Homo sapiens: one gene and its partner. The protein of the gene in region 1 purifies or fractionates together with the protein of each later gene. This does not show direct contact. Each region holds a gene or a part of one and is shown in the gene's direction. Other genes may lie near its edges. The genes, in order: NIM1K and SEPTIN9.

Region 1 (3,814 bases):
TAATAGTCTACAACTTGAATTAACCACATCATAGTTCTTAAATTACTTTCTCTCAAGAACTTCAAGGTTAGCTTAGCCATTATTATACAGCATCCTGAGGAATATTAATCAGTTTTACAGATGGACAAGTTGTGTTCAAAAGCCAAGTGATAGGTCGGTGCCGTGGCTCAGGCCTGTAATCCCAATACTTTGGGAGGCTGAAGCAGAAGGACTGCTTGAGCCCAGGAGTTCGAGACCAGCCTGGGCAACATGGTGAGACCTTGTCTCTATAAAAATTTTTTAAAAATTAGCTGGGTGTGGTGGTGCATGCCTGTAGTCCCAGCTACTGGGGAGACTGAGGGAGGAGGATTGCTTGAGCCTGGGAGGTTCAAGGCTGCAGTGAGCTGTGATTATGCCACTGCATTCCATCCTGGGAGACACAGAAAGACTCTGAATCCAAAAAAAAAAAAAAAAAAAGTGATTTCAGCTAACCACTTGGAAAATCGAGACAAAAATCTAAATTGTCTGACATGAGCATTATGAATATGAGCATTAGCCAAGACTTAAGAGAAATTCAGGGCATGGATAGCGGGAAGAATTTAAGATTAGAGAGCAAAATAAAACTGTTAAGGGGAAAAAACTGTAAGGAGAAAGCAGATTAATAGAAAGAAAGTAAAAGCGAAAACATCAAGTGAAAAGAGGGTTGCACAGAAGGAAAACGAAGTTGCAGAATAGGAAACTAAGAAGAACTCCACTCTTCATCTTCCACAGAGAACACTGATGGTTTTCCAGAAAGCAGTCAGTACCCTATTTAGCAAAATCGTGTGACTTGGGAGGCCTTAGCGGCAGATCTTAGTTCATTCTGACTCCCTGCCACCCATCCAAGTGGTGTGGGCTGAGGCAGCTGTCTTTTCGGGTCTCCTGAACTAGCTGCTCATTAGATCTTTTCTCCCTAATCCTAAAGCCATCAAGAAGCTTTCTGTGTCTCTATTTGTTGGAATTATCTAGTTGGGATAATATATGGATACACTTGATTACATAATTGCACTGAAATTTTTCTTTTTACTTTAAAAAATTGTTCAAATTGTTATCATCACAATGCATTCACCTAATTTTATGAGAGTATATTAAAAGCTTATAACTGGCTGGGCGCGGTGGCTTACGCCTGTAATCCCAGCACTTTGGGAGGCCGAGGTGGGTGGATCATGAGGTCAGGAGATCGAGACCATCCTGGCTAACACAGTGAAACCCTGTCTCTACTAAATATACAAAAAAAAAAAAATTAGCCAGGTGTGGTGGTGGGCGCCTGTAGTCCCAGCTACTCGGGAGGCTGAGGCAGGAGAATGGCTTGAGCCTGAGAGATGGAGCTTGTAGTGAGCCGAGATCGCGCCACTGCACTCCAGCCTGGGCGACAGAGCGAGACTCTGTCTCAAAAATAAATAAATAAATAAATAAAAAATAAAAGCTTATAACTAAAACAACAGTCCCAGTCTCCAGAGGCAATCATTTTGAACTCTTGGCTGTTTGATCACTTACCTCCCTATGTCCAAATAATTAGCTTATGTTGCTGTTTTTTCTTTTTTTCTTGAGACAGGTTCTCACACTGTTGCCCAGGGTAGAGTACAGTGGTGTGATCATGGCTCACTGCAGCCTTAAATTCCTGAGTTCAAGCAATCCTTCCCCCTCAACCTCTTGAGTAGCTGGGGCTATAGGTGCACGCTACCATGCCCATGCCCAGCTTTTTTTTTTTTTTTTTTTTTTTGGTAAAGACAAGGTTTCACTATGTTGCCCAGCCTGGTCTCAAACTCCTGGGCTCAAGCAATCCTCTCACTTTGGCCTCCCAAAGTGCTGGGATTACAAGCATGAGCCACCATGCCTGGCCACTGGTTCTTGATTTATCAATTTTGGACAGAATCTATTGACTTATTTATTTTTATGTTTTATTTAGAGGCAGGATCTCACTCACCTAGACTACAGTGCAGTGGTACAATCATAGCTCACTGCAGCCTAGAACTTCTGGGCACAAGTGATCCTCTCATTTCAGACTCCAGAGTAGCTGGGACTACAGGCATGCACCATCATGTCCAGCTAAGTTTTTTATTTTTGTAGAGTTGTCGGTGGTAGGGGGGGCGGGCCTCTCTATGTTGCCCAGGCTGGTCTTGAACTCCTGGCCTCAAGCCATCCTTCTGCCTTGGCCTCCCAAAGTGCTGGGATTACAGGCGTGAGCCACCACGCCTGGCCAAATTAGTTCTATTCTTGGCTAATAAAATACACCTTAGTCATTTTTAATCATGAAGATTTTTAAAGAGCCTTTTAAACTTTTTGGAAATTTGAAATGTAGCCAAATACTCCCTCAGATGTAATCAACAGCGCCAGCCCTTGAGCTCCTACAGAACACAGAGGTACTGATTTTTCCACCCTTTATACTGCCTCAATTTCCATGATCCATACTCCATACCCCCTCTCCCATTTTACCATTTCCCTGACCTACATTTCTCTATCTTTCAGTACTTGCTGAATCACACCTGGAAATTCCTTCAGGCCTTATCTCCTTCCAGATGTTCTCTTTTGGGCCCCACCCTGTCTGTACCTATCTCTAGTTTAGCCTTTGGCCATTATATTTAGACGATCTGTTTATGCATCTACCTTGCCCCACTAGCTGTAGATTTAGTTATATCTACATTGTTCCTGGGGGTAACTTGTACACTTAAACATGGAGGACGGAGCTTAAAAATAATGTTTGTTGAACTGAACACGTCATCTTGATATTGAAGGAGTATTCCATAGTAGAGTAAGAGGGGTAGCAACCTCACATTGCTTAGAGTAGGGGTGAGGGCAAGGAAGTAGGGGGAAAACATAATCTATTTCTTTTCTTTTCTTTTTTCCGATGGAGGAGTCTTGCTCTGCACCCGCACCTGGCCAATATGATTTCTTTCTTTCTTTCTTTCTTTCTTTCTTTCTTTCTTTCTTTCTTTCTTTCTTTCTTTCTTTCTTTCTTTCTTTCTCTTTCTTTCTTTCTTTCTTTCTTTCTTTCTTTCTTTCTTTTCTTTCTTTCCTTTCTTTCTTTCTCTCTTTCTCTCCTTTCTTCCTTCCTTCCTTACTTCCTTCCTCCCTTCCTTCCTTTCTGTCTTTCTGTCTTTCTTTCTTTCTGTCTTGCTCTCTCTCTCTCCCCCTTCCTCCCTCCCTCCCTCTCGAGCTCGCTCTCTTTCTTTCTTTCCTACTTTCCTTCCTTCCTTCTTTCTTTCCTTCTTTCTATAGTGAAAACTGTCTTTATTTTTATTGCCTTTTATTTTCAACAATGATTACTTGAACTTAAAAAAAAAAGAGCGGACTTTATTAAGTAATGATTACTGAAAAGCCAAACCTTTCCAGCCCACTTCATATTGTCTTTTAACCATTTCAGAACACGATCTATTTCTTATCCTCCTACTTTCTAGCAGCATCTGTTTAGAGGGGATTGCCTGTGGCACACACAGCTCCTGCTCATGAGACAAGGTGAAGAAGCCTCATCTGTTTTGTGTGAAGCACAGACCCTGAGGTCAGACAGTCTTGGGCTTGAAATTAAACTTGGATGTTAATTGCCTGTATGGCTTTGGACAAGTTACCAAGTCCTTCTGAAGTTTAGTTTCTTCATCTGAAAAATGAGGATAATAGCAGGCACCTTTTAGGGCTGTTGTAAAGATTTTTAAAAATATGTATAAAGGGCCAAGCACGGTGGCTCACACCTGTAATCCCAGCACTTTAGGAGGCCAAGGTGGGTGGATCACCTGAGGTCAGGAGTTCGAGACCAGCCTGACCAATATGGAAAAACCCCATCTCTACTAAAAATACAAAA
Region 2 (3,611 bases), on another chromosome or scaffold:
GGCCACAGTTCAACCCACTCCTGGCGGTGACACCCCGGGAGGGATGGGCCCGAACGTTTCCTTCCCCTTCCTCTCTCTGTCCCTTCATTTCTCATTAGAATGGAAGAGGGGAAGGTGCAGAGGGAAATGCAGCAGGAAAAGCCACTTTGTTCTGGGAGAGCACTTGGCTGAAAGGCCCAGTAGAGCAGGAAGCACAAGTCTCTTAATCTTCCAGGGCCTCAGTTTTCATCATCCACAAAGTGGGTGCAGTGTGCCAAGATTTTAGTGAGTTGAGAGACTGTCCCAAAGACCACAGAGCTTTTTGGGAAGCTGTTGCTCTAAAAAAATGGTCATAATGACAATTACCAGGAGGCATCAGACACTCCTGTGCCACTGGCTAGACATGGGTTATCTCGTTTCATGTCCGAAGCTCCCCGCACCCACCCTCCTTGCAGAGTTGAAGAGGTGCTGTGAGCAGAAAACCTGCCAAGGGACCCAGAACGGGAGGCGGCTCTAGAATCTACAGCTCCAGCCCTGCACCAGACTCCCTCGAGATGGGAGTTCATGCCTGGAGGAGGGTGTGGAGAGGCACACGGGCCTTTCCCCTGTCTGCACTCCTCCCCTACCACCACCCCTGCCGGGCCCACCCTGCGGGAGCTGCCCAGCTGGGTGCAGCCTGGGTGTTTTCCAGTATCCGCCTGTGGTGTCAGGCTGGCTTGCCTCCCCTTGGCCCCTCTGCCTGCAGTTCCTCTCTTCCTCTCTGCCCAAAGAGTTCTTGCTGTTTAGGAAACTTTTTATGAAAGGCAGGTTTGGGAGAGTTAGGGATGGATGGGCCTGGGACGGGCCGGCGGCTTTGCTATGGGCGTGCCTCTGCTGCACCCTGGTGGCCAACCTTGAGTACCGCAGGTGGCCGGTGACAGAAACTGTCAGGAAATGCACAAGAGAGAGGTCCCCGCACCTCTCTGACCTGTGCGTTGTTGAGCACCACTGGCTCCAGCTGAGGAAGAGTCTGGAACCTGTCAGGACAGTTGTGAGGTGGTGGGGCCCACTTTCCAGCAGTCTTATATGAGGACCCTGGAAATGTGCCTTCAGCACTGCTGGGTTTTTATATCAGGGGCCCCATGAGTTCATAGCTGACCTGACACCCGGACTAGTAAGGGCTGTGCCTTGTTCTTGCCTCCCACTTGGTGAACAGCATCTTGAGGTATCTTTCCCATCCTTAGAAACCACCCCAAGTATTGTCAATAGAAATGTGGGGTGTAATTGATCACGCCATGAACTCATTTAATCCTCATGTCCCTGAGAGGCGGGTGACGTTATTATCCACATTTTATGGATGAGGAAACTGAGGGAATGAGAGTAACTTGCCCGAGCCAGGGAGTGGCGATCACACACTCCAACTCCAGCCTGAGAGCCCCATTCTTCCTGCCGGCTCTCGCTGCCCGTCAGTGTTAGATGAGAGTGCTGCTGGTCAGTCTGCAGGAGGTTCTAGTGTGGACACCGCCCTACACAGGGCCGTGGCAGGAGGGCCTAGGCAAAGGCAACCGGCATAGCACTGAGAGCACTTGAGGGCTGGGCAAGGTGGAGGCCCCGGCCCTGCCTGCTGGCCTACCAAGTAAAAACTAGACATTTTTAACTTGGGGAAAAGCCATGTGGCTCTGCGATGGGGCAGCCTGGAGCCAGGTGTATGGGTTCTGCATCCCGCTCCAGCCTTATGCACTGTGGAGCTGAGACAGACACAGTTCTTGCGTTCTCTATGCCTCATTTTCTTTTCTTTTCTTTTTCTTTTTCTTTTTTTTTTTTTTTGAGACGAAGTTTCACTCTTTTGCCCAGGCTGGAGTGCCGTGGCGTGATCTTGGCTCACCACAACCTCCACCTCCTGGGTTCCAGTGATTCTCCTGCCTCAGCCTCCTGAGTAGCTGGGATTACAGGCGCCTGGTACCAGGCCTGGCTAATTTTTGTATTTTTAACAGAGACGAGATTTCATCATGTTGGCCAGGCTGGTCTCGAACTCCTGACCTCGTGATCCACCCACCTCAGCCTCCCAAAGTGCTGGGATTGCAGACGTGAGCCGTGGTGCCCAGCGTCTACGCCCCATTTTCGTAAGATAATGGGGATAACAAAGGAATCACAAGAGACACTTGCAGGTGTGTGAAGACGAAGTTCATCACATGGGAGGGCACCGGGTGTCTTTATTTGCCTTCCCTGCCCGGCTCCCCACCTCCAGTGATGCCGTTCACTGCCCTCCTTGTTAAAAGGCCTTCTGTTATATAACAGTTACACATGCCAGGCACCGCGTGTTCATATAGGAGTTACGAAGCACAGCAATAAAATGACCACTCTGAGATGGCCACCAGCTCGAGCCCGAGGGCACTTGTGGGTGCCCGTGGTCTCCTGCCCAGTCTCCCTGAGAAGTGGCCACTGTCCCGAGCTTGGGCTTGTATGTATTGTGTGAAGTGCACATGTCCCTGAGCAATGTTTAGCATTGCTGATTCTTGAGCTTGTGAATGGTCGTCCACAGTACGTAGCCCCTGTGTGTGTCCCTGTGTGTGTGTGCTCTGAGCGCACACAAGGTGGATGGGGCCGTGGGGGTAACACCCTGTGGGCCACAGGTTTTCTTTAAAATCCCAGCTCCGATTCCTGCTTCATCCCATTCCCAGCAGCCCAGCCCCCTGCCTGTCTTCAGGCCCCTGCTGGGACGTCCTGCTCTCCCTGGTCACCCCAGTGGTGCGGGGGCCCACTGCCCTGGCTTCTCCACTGTGGCTTCCTTCCATGCTCCTATTTGGCCTGGTCACTGTGCCATCTCCCATTAGCCAGGAACTTTCTGGAGAGCAGGAGCTGAGCTGTCCAGGAGCAGGAGCTGGTGCTGGTCACTCCAGTATCCCCCAGACTGAGGGCAGTGCCAGGTGTCCTATACTCAGCTGCAGAGCAGGTGGTTCCCCTGCCCTCCTGCCCATGGGGCTGCCCTCAGACTCTGCTTTTGGCACCAGCATTTCTGGGCAGGGGGAGAGAGGTGGGGTCCGGGCAGAGTTTCTCCACTGGGACATTAAAGCCCCTCCTGTCTCCTCTCCTAGTTGAAAACACCACACACTGTGAGTTTGCCTACCTGCGGGACCTTCTCATCAGGTGAGAGACAGGGTGCTTGGGTGGGGCTGACGGCTTCACCCCTAAGAGGGCCCTACAGCGGGTGGGGGCAGTGGGTGTGGGGCCGAAGCCCTGGGCAGAGTGGGTGCCCCCTGCCACCTGCCTGCCCTGCCCTCGGGAAGATCTTGGAAGCCCATCTTCTGAAAAAGAAAACCCACTGGGAAATGAAGCAGGCAGTGAAGATCCTTTTCAACCCCTGCGAAGTTGGCTGGATGGGAAGGCTGAGCTTTGATCCACTGTGGTCTGGCCCGTTAGAGCTGCCCGGTGGCCACTAAGGGCCCAGTGAGGCCTCATGTGCAGGCCCTGCCGGCAGCGTGGGGCGTCTCCAGCTCCGATCCCACTGGCCTCTGACCCCTACCCCTTTCACCTGGCTGAGGCTTCTCCTTGTTTCCCTTGAGTCCAGGCAAGGAGGGGAAGCCCTGATGGAGAGGGTGCTGGGTGGGTGGTCCCTGGAGTGTGGGCCCTGGCCTGGGCAGGTTCTTCCTCAG

What was found.
Region 2: the proteins of NIM1K (region 1) and SEPTIN9 purify together in Homo sapiens (affinity purification with mass spectrometry; one large-scale study listed by BioGRID and IntAct). This does not show direct contact.

The regions. Positions count from the first base shown.
Region 1 is NC_000005.10:43,195,225-43,199,038, forward strand, and holds part of NIM1K (serine/threonine-protein kinase NIM1), read left to right. Parts: intron 1-3,814.
Region 2 is NC_000017.11:77,494,262-77,497,872, forward strand, and holds part of SEPTIN9 (septin-9), read left to right. Parts: intron 1-3,053; coding exon 3,054-3,105; intron 3,106-3,611.